Linked DNA regions of Homo sapiens. The protein of the gene in region 3 interacts with the protein of the main gene of each other region in a pairwise test. Each region holds a gene or a part of one and is shown on either strand. Other genes may lie near its edges.

The links.
Region 1: the proteins of TNMD (region 3) and BNIP3L interact in binary tests that used the Homo sapiens proteins (3 or more experiments, as listed by UniProt).
Region 2: the proteins of TNMD (region 3) and BNIP3 interact in binary tests that used the Homo sapiens proteins (3 or more experiments, as listed by UniProt).

Annotation. Positions count from the first base shown.
Region 1 is NC_000008.11:26,392,949-26,396,700, reverse strand, and holds part of BNIP3L (BCL2/adenovirus E1B 19 kDa protein-interacting protein 3-like), read right to left. Parts: intron 1,472-3,752; coding exon 1,399-1,471; intron 1-1,398.
Region 2 is NC_000010.11:131,975,271-131,979,022, forward strand, and holds part of BNIP3 (BCL2/adenovirus E1B 19 kDa protein-interacting protein 3), read right to left. Parts: intron 1-3,752. UniProt on the Homo sapiens protein: Apoptosis-inducing protein that can overcome BCL2 suppression. May play a role in repartitioning calcium between the two major intracellular calcium stores in association with BCL2.
Region 3 is NC_000023.11:100,587,809-100,591,560, reverse strand, and holds part of TNMD (tenomodulin), read right to left. Parts: intron 1-3,752. UniProt on the Homo sapiens protein: May be an angiogenesis inhibitor.

The DNA.
Region 1 (3,752 bases), on a different chromosome or scaffold from region 3:
TGGTTTGAATGTCCTCCCGTAGCTCACTCTAATTTGATCGTCTGAAGCCTTCTTCTCTCAGCTCGTCAAAATCATTCTCCATCCAGCTTTGTTCCGTTGCTGGTGAGGAACTGCGTTCCTTTGGAGGAGGAGAGGCGCTCTGTGTTTTAGAGTTTCCAGTTTTTCTGTTCTGTTTTTTCCCCATCTTTGTGGTTTTATCTACTTTTGGTCTTTGATGATGGTGATGTACAGATGGGTTTTCGGTGTGGATGTCCTTTCTGTTTGTTAGTTTTCCTTCTAACAGACAGGACCCTCAGCTGCAGGTCTGTTGGAATACCCTGCCGTGTGAGGTGTCAGTGTGCCCCTGCTGGGGGGTGCCTCCCAGTTAGGCTGCTCGGGGGTCAGGGGTCAGGGACCCACTTGAGGAGGCAGTCTGCCCGTTCTCAGATCTCCAGCTGCGTGCTGGGAGAACCACTGCTCTCTTCAAAGCTGTCAGACAGGGACATTTAAGTCTGCAGAGGTTACTGCTGTCTTTTTGTTTGTCTGTGCCCTGCCCCCAGAGGTGGAGCCTACAGAGGCAGGCAGGCCTCCTTGAGCTGTGGTGGGCTCCACCCAGTTCGAGCTTCCCGGCTGCTCTGTTTACCTAAGCAAGCCTGGGCAATGGCGGGCGCCCCTCCCCCAGCCTCGCTGCCGCCTTGCAGTTTGATCTCAGACTGCTGTGCTAGCAATCAGCGAGATTCCGTGGGCATAGGACCCTCCGAGCCAGGTGTGGGATATAGTCTCGTGGTGCGCCGTTTTTTAAGCCGGTCTGAAAAGCACAATATTCGGGTGGGAGTGACCCGATTTTCCAGGTGCGTCCGTCACCCCTTTCTTTGACTCGGAAAGGGAACTCCCTGACCCCTTGCGCTTCCCAGGTGAGGCAATGCCTCGCCCTGCTTCGGCTCGCGCACGGTGCGCGCACCCACTGGCCTGCGCCCACTGTCTGGCACTCCCTAGTGAGATGAACCCGGTACCTCAGATGGAAATGCAGAAATCACCCGTCTTCTGCGTCGCTCATGCTGGGAGCTGTAGACCGGAGCTGTTCCTATTCAGCCATCTTGGCTCCTCCCTATTCTGTGGTCTTAAAGCATCTATCTCAGTCTTTTTCTACTTATACACTCAAGAAACTAGCCTGGAGTATTGGCATGATTTATTATGGACAAGAATTTTCCAATTCGTTTAGAGTGACAGGGCCCAAAATCCTTAGTTGTAAAGGAGTGCGACAAGAACTATATCATCCTAAATAAATTCCAAAATCAGAAACTCAATAATAGCTTCAAACTATTCCTAAAAGTCTTCACATTTATTTTAGCAAAATATACTTAGAGAATTTACATCTTTCTTAATTGTTTACTGTAAATCAGAATCCCCCCGACACACCTGAGAGCTATGGTCCCTGCTGGTGTGCATTTCCACATCAAACATGATCTGCCCATCTTCTTGTGGCGAAGGGCTAGAAGAGAAGGAATTCAGCTATTAGTTTTAATTCTCACTTTGTCAAATGACTTAGTCTCTACTAGAAATTAGAAAATTAAAAGTTACAGCAGTATGGCTTTGAAAAAGCAAATCAGAGAATATATCATAACCCTATACAAGAAAAATTTATGTGATATTAAAAGGCTAAATGAAATTGAGCATTCTTACTCCCAAAATGTTCTGCACTTTTTCAGTAGTAATGAAATCCTTCAAAATGATAAATTTGCAAAGGAAATACTATCTACAGACACAAACTGTCACATTCTCTTATATTTACTCTTTTGTCCACTAAAGGTAAAATAATCTTCAAATTCAGGAACTTCAGAGTTCTTTTTCTCAAAGTTCCCTCATCATTAAATAATTCACCAGTAGTTCTCAAAGTGCATAAGGTAGTTCTCAAAGACGCTTTCAGAGGGTCTTTGAGGTTACAGTTCCTTTCTCAATACTAGTAGGATTTATTTGCCTTTTTCATTCTCATTCTCCCATGTGTATAGTGGAATTTTCCAAAGGCTACATGATGTGTGATAGCACAACAGTTAGAATGCAAACACAGATGAGAACCAGCTGTCTTCTATTAAGCTTGGTATTAGAGATTTGTAAATGTGTAAAACAATGCCACTATTCTTATTAACTTGGAGGGTTTATAGAAAATAGGTATTTTCACTAAAAAATGCTACTTATGTTAAAATGTATTATTTTTGAATGAATATATATTTTCTCAGTTTTAATTTCTAATATAGTAAATATCAAAATATATAAACCCACAAACAAGTTTTTTGGGGTCCCTAATGATTTTTAAGAATGTAAAGGTATGTAATGACCAAAAACTTTGAGAACCACTATTTTACTTATTTCAGAAATATTTGCTTTGAGATATTTCAGAGTGAATTATATAACTTATATATTAATATAAAACCTTTATGATTGCACAAAATACATTCTTAGAACTGTAAAAATTTACAAATAAGTTTTTAGACAAAAACAACATGATCACAAACTGCACTTGATACAAGAGATGAACAGAATGTGCTAAGTTAATTTCTTAGCTTTATTAATGATTTCTTGTATAAAAACTGAAAGTCACTGGGGATCCTTCACTACATACACAAACCCTCCCCCAAAATCTAAAATAGAAATAAAAAATATTTGGGGCTTAACTTGCTGAAAAGAATAGATATTAACTATTAAAGTTATCAAGAGTATGTATATAATGTTAATTAATGTATAGAGACGTTGGTGAGACTGACTCAGAAATAAGATCGTCAGAAATTTATCAGACAGATTAGGCCTAGGAGTCTTTTAGACTAGTATAATTGACATAGGAGATTTTTAAATGGGGACAGGAAAACAGAAAAGCTGGTTCTGTATCAAACCAACGTCATATATATTTAGGAAATTTTTGTCTTGAACTAGCACAGGAGTCAACCCGAACTGGGCACTCCTACTGGCCTCAGTTTACTATCTTTGTGCTCATAACTGTTGGGTTCACAGCTACACATCAAGTTAAGGGTCAGCCTTACATAGCCGTGACCAGGTCAAGGCAGTCAGGGTGACAAAGTCAAGAATCCTATGGAAGCATTGCTCTGCTTCTATATGCTTCTTCACACTGGTACCAACCTCTTCTCTAAACTGTTTACTCCTCCTAACAATTTGGAATGCATTAGAGCTTCACCCATGGCACATATTAGAATCGGCTGGGGAGCTTTTAAAATATTGTGACGTCTCTACCCTGCCCCTGTCAACCAAAATGAGAAGTTCTTGAGATGCAGTCCATGTGCTGCCATTTTTAAAAGCTTCTGGGTGAATCTAGTGTGCCGTCAAGGTGAAAACCCCTGTGACAGGGTGAAAGGCAAAGCAGAACACACTGGGGTTCCCAGCTAACAACCCCTGCGGCAACACAAATATTTCTATGGAATAATTTTTAAGTTGAAAATATACATAAATCAGCTCTAGGACTGATACCCAACAACCCTAAAACATTTCCCCCTACAAGAAACACTTTCCAATTACTTTTCACATATAGAGACGCATGGCAATTCAGATGATGTGAGTTTTGAAGACACTCCTCAATGGTAAAGCGTGTTAGTAGGCTATCCCAGAAGACTCGAGTTCTAGCCATTCTCTGAAAGATGACCACTAATCTAGGGCCTGGAGAGACATAAGATGAGGGGTACGAAAGTGTTCAAAAGCATTTGCCATGCCTCCTCATGGCAACCTAAACTTAAACATGATCATAGGAGGGTGAAGGCATATTCAGT
Region 2 (3,752 bases), on a different chromosome or scaffold from region 3:
ACACGTCTATTTCTGGGCCCCAGATAATCTCTCTACTTTGTGTCATAGGTTTATTTATTTAAAGCAAATCTGGTAGGAGCTTCCTCTGGTAGCGTATGGAGGATGGAGTGCAGTGGGAGGAAAGTGCAGGCCACAAAAGACAGGGAAACTTATGGACGAGAACAATGGAATTATCTCATTTTTGCAGTCACTATAATTTTAGTAAGCAGAATAATCACCCTGAGCTGCTGACTGTCCTTAAACCAACACAGCACTAATAACACCATGCAATTAGGGGGAAAGGAGCAGCCTCTTCATCCGTCATGTTCGCTGGAAGCAAAGGCAGGTGCACAGCTTTCCACACACACGAGGCATCTCTCCTGAAAGAGGGCTGGCCTAGGCTCCATACGCCACTTGTTGCAGAGTCTATTTCATATTAACCAGAAAAAAGCAAACCGAAGGCCCAGGAAGGAAAAGTGGATTTGCAACTTATGCCATCAACAGTCTCCCAGTAAGCTGCTAACGAAATGATCACACAAATTTTCAAATGAACGCATGATTGTTCTCTTTGGCCTCTCACGTTGCCTCATGTCCTGGCCTACACGAAGCACATCCCTAATACAAAGGCAAGCCAGGGTCTGTCTCGGAGCCTGGAGCTCAATGGAGGAGAAAGGCCCAGGCCAGTCTGCCCCACACTCTGGCAGAGGCTACATGGTGCCTTCTGAGATGTACAGACCACACCATTCCTGAAGCCGCTCATCTGACCAGACAGTATTGCCAAGTACTCTGATGTTCACTAGCCCTCCTTCCCTCTCTGCGGTTCAAGATGCCATGCGGCCGGCTAGCCATGGCCTGCCCCTGAGAGAACGGCACCACAGCCTCTGTTTTGGCCAGCTGTCTTTCTCCGCTGAATCTACAGTATTCAGATTCTGGGCCTGCTTCAATTTACTTGACTAAAGTGTTGTTCAGCTATCTGACGATATGGAACACAAATGCAACTTGAAGGTGTGGTGTCTCTTCTCTGATGCCACTCTTAACATCAAATGTGGGACACCAAGTCACCACCACCGGGGTGTCCAACGATTCAATTCCATTCTATCTACCTAGACTTAGTGTGGAGCCCACAAGACTGTTCCCACAGATGCAAGCAGAGAATGGGGTGTCCAGGTTACCCGTATTTCTGCCAGTGCCTCTACCTACTCAGGGGATCCCACACACCTGCCTCAGGTTCAGTAATTTACTACAATTCACAGAACTCAGAAAAACTCTTTACTTACATTTATCAGTTTACCAGAAACAATTCCAGGGCAGACAAATGGAAATGACATACAGCCCAGATCCCCACCTACCCCACACGTCCCAACCCTAACCCCAACCACACTCTCTGCAACCAGACTCCCACTTACCCCACATGTCCCAACCCTAACCCCAACCATGCTACCCGCACCTCATGGCTCCCCCATCTCCATCTCCAGTCCCCTCCCCTCCTAGGAGGGGCTGCCCTGGGAATTTCTACCTCAAGTAACTATCCTGGGGCCACCCTTGAGCCACTGTATTAGCAGTGTATTCTGAAGGGGCTCCTTACAACTTACACCAAAAATGGTTAACCAAGGAGCACTTTTGGAGTACACTGCTAATAGGGTGACTTTATGAATAACGCACACACTGGTCAGGTTGTTCTGCCTATGGAGTCACCATCTTTTTACTGTTTTACTTTCTTTAATAAACATGCTTAAGACACTTATTGGCACAGCGGTTCATGCCTGTAATCCCAGCACTTTGGGAGGCCGAGGCGGGCAGATCATCTGAGGTCAGGAGTCAGAGACCAGCCTGACCAACATGGTGAAACCCCGTCTCTACTAAAAATACAAAATTAGCTGGGCGTGGTGGGCGCCTGTAATCCCAGCTACTCGGGAAGCTGAGGCAGAAGAATCCCTTGAACCTGAGAGGGGGAGGTTGCAGTGAGCCGAGATCATGCCACTGCCCCCCAGCCTGGGCAACAATAGCGAAACTCTGTGTCTCAAACAAAAAAAAAAGACACTGCTCAGGAAGCCCCAGGGGTTTAGGTGCTCTGCACCAGGAAGTAGGTAGGGTCAAGACCAAACACATACTGTAATCTATCACACAAGGGGCAGGCTGAAGACAACAGGGAGAGGAAGATGAAGGAGAGACAAGTGTATCTCTGTCATCCTCTGCGCTACTGCAACAGAATCCCACAGACTTAGTGATTTACGAACAGAAACTGATCTCTGTTCTGGAGGCTGGGAAGTCCAAGATCCACGCACCAACATCTGGTGTCGGCTGAGGGCCTTCCTGCCTCATCCCTTCAATGAGGCTACAGAGGGACCCACCTCCCTCCATCCAGCCCCTTAGAGCACTAATCCCATTCACTAGAGAGGAGCCCCTATGGCCGAGCCACCTCTTAAAGGCCCACCTTTTACTACCATCCCACTGGCAACATGGAGGAACACATTCGAACCAAAGCAGTGCTTTTTAAACATCACCCCAGAAAGGACCTAAAAATCCAGGAAACAAGGAAAAAAAACTCACTCCAGATTGTCCATGGCTAATGACTTTGGGCCCAAAAGCTGTATTCCCAGGAATGATTTACTAAGGGACAGGAGTTTTATTATTAACCCACAGCAACCGCGTAGGAAAGGAAGGCACTTCCTGGAGAATGGAGCGTGCTGTGTATCTACTCACGTGTTACAGTTCTCCACTCGGATCGTTCACCTTTTCAAAGAAAGATGGGCTTACAGTAAGGTTGCTTAATAACCTTAGAAAACTTGCTCATAATCACAAGCAGTTTACACTTCAAATCACTGTAGTATAATTAGGCCCCAGACGGAAAGGTGCTGCTGTTGCTGCTGCAAGAAAAGCCCTCCTTCCTAATCTCATTTCGCGTCCCTCTCATGTTCCTCCCCCTCCTCACTCACTTATAATTTACATTGCTAACAAGACACACAGCCAGTAAATCTTACCTCCCTCCTATATCAAGGTAGATGAGATTTTGAAAAGCCTAGACTATAAATATTTATATCACAGTACAAAAAGAAAACTGATAGGTCTGCCTCAGAGACAAAATACAGTCCAACAAGAGTTCTTAATCCATTTCTTATTCTCACTTTGTGTAAAAAAAAAAAAAAAAAATCATCTGACATCCAGCTTTTCTAGGTGCCCAAAGCAGTTCTCCCTCCAGTGACAGACTCCAGGGAATCCCTTCGATTCACTGCCCTCTGTATGTCCCAGGGCAACTCCCTGGGTCCCATTCCTCAACATGGATTCATGGGCCACAGCCACGAGCCCCACGTGGAGTAAACACAGGGCCAAGTTCTCAAGGCCACCCTATGCCCTAACCTGGGGTGACAACCTCAACTCTGGCTATGAAGGGAGAATCACCTGTGGTGTTTTTTCATTGTTCTCCAAAAGCCTAGCCTCAGCCCACTCTGAAAGTGACTATTTGGGATGCTGGGGTGGAATCCAGGCAAATAGATTGAAAAAGCTCTGGGATAAATGTCAGAACAGAGGGAGGCAGCATCCCAGAAAAAAAACCTGAAGCAGAGGAGCTGTGAACCCCCGAGGGAACTAGCACCCCAAAACCATACAAAGGGCTTCTTCCCCAGGGGAGGTGGGCTCTAAGAAATTGCTGTTTTACCTTTAAAGCTTCTCAGGTTAGTGGGGAGAGAACAAAAGAGACCCGCCTGACAAAAGATTTCAAGTATCAAGTCAGCTGGGTAGGTAAATCAGGTCCCTGGCTTCCAACGGGGCTCGTT
Region 3 (3,752 bases):
GGACTGTTTGGAGATGGGTATGAGCAAATCCAGACACACTGTCTCGCCTGGGTCCCTGTGGAGCACATTGCTTGGGTAATGGCTATGCAAGCTTCACTGGCCCGTATGAAGACTGAGCTCATGCCTTTGGCATCACAAGTACTTTGCTCTCTACTAAGCTTCCTGGCTCAGGGGTTGAAGGTCTTTCTGGAGATGAAAGAATAAATGGCTTTGTCCTCTCCAGGAGCAAGCTAAAGCAGAGACAGGATGACTGGCCTGAAGAGAGGTGTGAGTGGGCTACAAGTAGCTCATCTCAGCTGCCTCCAACTCAGCTTTATTCCAGGGAGGATAGAGCAAGGACAGAATATGATGAGGAGTACACCCCTGCCCAATTGGAAAATAGAGAGAGTTAATTTTTGGTGCTTCTAGCTTTCCTTTTCTGCTCTATTTTCATATTCTGTTCATTCTATACCCTCATAGCCCTTCCCCTTTCTCTTCCCATTTCTGTCCCTTTGTCTCCTGTCTAGACATCTAGGAATCTCGTGGTGCTTCAGGTACCTTATGACAAAGAAGAAATCAATCTGACCCATGATTTCACACTTAGATATTAGTGATGAATATTTGTCTGTTTAAAAATTTGAGTGCAATACTTCACTCAGAGGAATGAAGTACTAATAGTGGATTTTATTACTTTATTACTTTGCCATTACTTTCAATGGCTAAAACCACAGTTACTTTTGCACCAATCTAATAGGCACAGTGGCACGAGGAATGGGAGATATTTGGGGGCAAGGGCATCTTTCCAGCACCACTCAAATGGGCTCTTACTCCACCCACACATAAGGCTGGCCTTAACTATAAGAACCAGAACACTGGAATGGAACAAGGAAGCCAATGGAGTGGAATAGGAATCAGAAGTGAAATGAGACAGATATGTGGTTAAGTCCAGGCAGTGAGAAGTGTAAGAAGACCACACTGACAAAATATGTAGAGGACACAACCCATTTTTCTTCCCTGCCCAGGAATTCTGTCTTCAGTCCAGTTAAATCCTCCATTCAGGCAGCAAATGAGCCCTAACATCCCTCTTTCACAGTTTTCCTTGTTTTCTTGCCTCTGTGGCAGTCCCTGAGATCAGAAAAGAAAGCTATTTAGAAAAGGTAAAGCTATCTCAGACCTCAGTGTGATGGATCTGTTTTAGGGGCAAGAAGCTTTAGCCTGTCCTGACAGGGATTTGAGGACATTTGGCTTAGGTTTGTTTTTTGAAGCCTGTGATTAATCTAGCTGCTCTTCACTCCATCTTCATCCCTTACTGTCTGTTATGAGGTACACTCTCCAAAGGTGAAATACATGCTCAGAATAGCTGGCTAGCAGGTGTTAGGCTGGAAGGAAGGGAAGAGAATGCACTGTACCATATTATTATTAACCTAACTTGGGGGAATTAAAGGGCCTCTGGGTATTTCTTTACCAACACAGAGCAGACAGATTGTTCCTTATGCAAAGTTAGAGTTCTGCATCTTCAATCACCATTTGGCAATATGCAAAATATTGGCATAAGCAGCACAGACATTCTTTTTCAACAAGAAAAAGCTACTTCTTTTATCTACAGACTTGAGCTGACCAGTAAGTTTTTCTCCTACCCATTATCCCCATCCCTGATTCTTAAATGCAGCTGAAGAATAGTGGAAAGAATCTTCAGACTAGCCTCTAGTTCTAACCTTAACCCCACCACTTACAAGCTGTGTGATTTTGGGCAAATCACTGAGTGTCTCTAGGGACTCAGTTCCTATTTTAATCCTTTACCCCTTTTCATCTGTAATGTTAGATAGTTAGCAAAGTCTGCTGAGATTTGCTCAGATCAACCTGTCAGGTTGATCACTGGACTACGCCTACTGCCACTATCTGTTGATCATCCAGGCTACTTCCTCCACAGCCCCAATTCCACTCTCAACCACTCCAGAACAGCTGTCTTTGAAGGCCCAGGCTCTTCATCCTGGTGTCATATAAGTTGTTCAGCAAATGCTGCCTTAGGAGAATGAAGAGACTGACTAAGAAGAACATGCCCATCACAGCCACAGCCTGGCTCCACATAATTGCTGGGAGCTGCCCTTGAGTAGCCCAGAATAAGAGCTGGCCCAGTGAGAGTTGTACAAGGGTGGACCTGGGTCTCACAATGCTTTAAGAGGAAAATGAAGAGAGGTCTTTTTTTTTTTTTTTTTTTTGAAAATGCCAACATGGCACCATCTGGTAAAGCTCAGTCTCCCTGCCAAAAATATTCCGGCTACTCCTTCAACTTTTTCCTTGAGGGTATATTAATGTTTCTCTAGACCCACATTTCACCCACCGGACTGTGGTGTAGGAAAGCCCAGGGGACCTGGAGAAAAAAGTTGTCTTCCTTGTGTGCCTAGAGAGGAGCGAAAAAAGTTAATATTGGGCTAATGCCCAATTGTGCGTGCCAAGAAATAGGCACGCACAAAATGTTGCAATCAGACTCGTCAAGAAAGTGCTTCTTCTGAGCAAAGGATTTTCAACCTAGAATGATAGTGGACTCACAACGCTGGGGGAGACTGTTTTAGTGATCACCTGCAACTGAGGTGTGGCAGGAGGGCAGAAAAGTGCCCGCTTATCCCTACCACTCCTCATTGCTCTGGTAATATATAGAAGTTGAAGGAACATCCTCACGAATCTATTGATTACTGTGGTCCTGATGGCTTTCAAACAACCCTAAAGTCACCAGGCAGCTCCTATGTAAGGCAGTAAGGACACTCTTTCATTTATTAAATGTATGATTCTTCTGCCTCGCTCCACAAAGGATTGGCAGGGATGGGCTACAAGGTCTGTGCTAAGTTTCTAAACTGTTGGTTTAAGGGCTAGGATTTTTCTGATTTGTTTGCTTCATGTTGGATTAATTAGCTGAGGAGTTGGCTTCTGACTGTTTCCAGTAAAATGTGTAATACAGGGGGCTTTAAGCAAGAATGTTTCTTTGGTGATTCTGCTTCAATGATCCCAGGGCAGTCACTGCCTAGAAGGGGAGCCTCATTACGATGCTTTCTCAAAATTGCTGGGACTGAATAGGTCTCTTCTGCTTGTTTAAGAAAGCTGAATTCAGAGCTGGATGGACCTGGCTTTCATTTAGCTCAGGTGGCTCCTGTATGTGGCTGTGGGTCAGGGGCCTGGGACCTGTAAGAAAATGCAGCAGCTCACCCAGAGTTAGTCGTCCTTGTTTCACTTTATTTTGATTTCATTCTCTCTCTGGTCTGTGTGTGTGTGTGTGTGTGTCTGTGTGTGTGTGAGTCTGTGCGTGTGCACACCTGTGTGCACGCAGACCTGAGGTATGTGAGGGGAGGAGGTCAAGCATGGCTTGTTCTCAATTTGGATACAGGAATCTGGATCTTTTGTACACACCAAAGCGGGAGTGAGGAGAAGGACTTATTGGCATGGAAATGTCAACACCAGATGTGGGATGTTAAATAAATACTGTTTATTATACACAGATGTTGAAAGACAAAATAAAAAGGAGGCGTGGTGGAGGCTAGGAGAGCAAACACTAAGAGCTTGGAGGAAATCCCAGGACTGCAAACAAATCACTGCCACCAATAAGCACAGTTGCATGCACAGCTCTCTCTACCAAGGGCCACAGAGTCCCAACAAGTCTCATAGATTTGTTAAGGAAAGCCCAAAGAGCCTGGATTTTAATCTGCTGTTGTTTCTTGCTAGGCCATACCATTAAGGGGAGAGTCTTTAATTTATGTAAGATGCCTGTGTCCCTTTCCTAT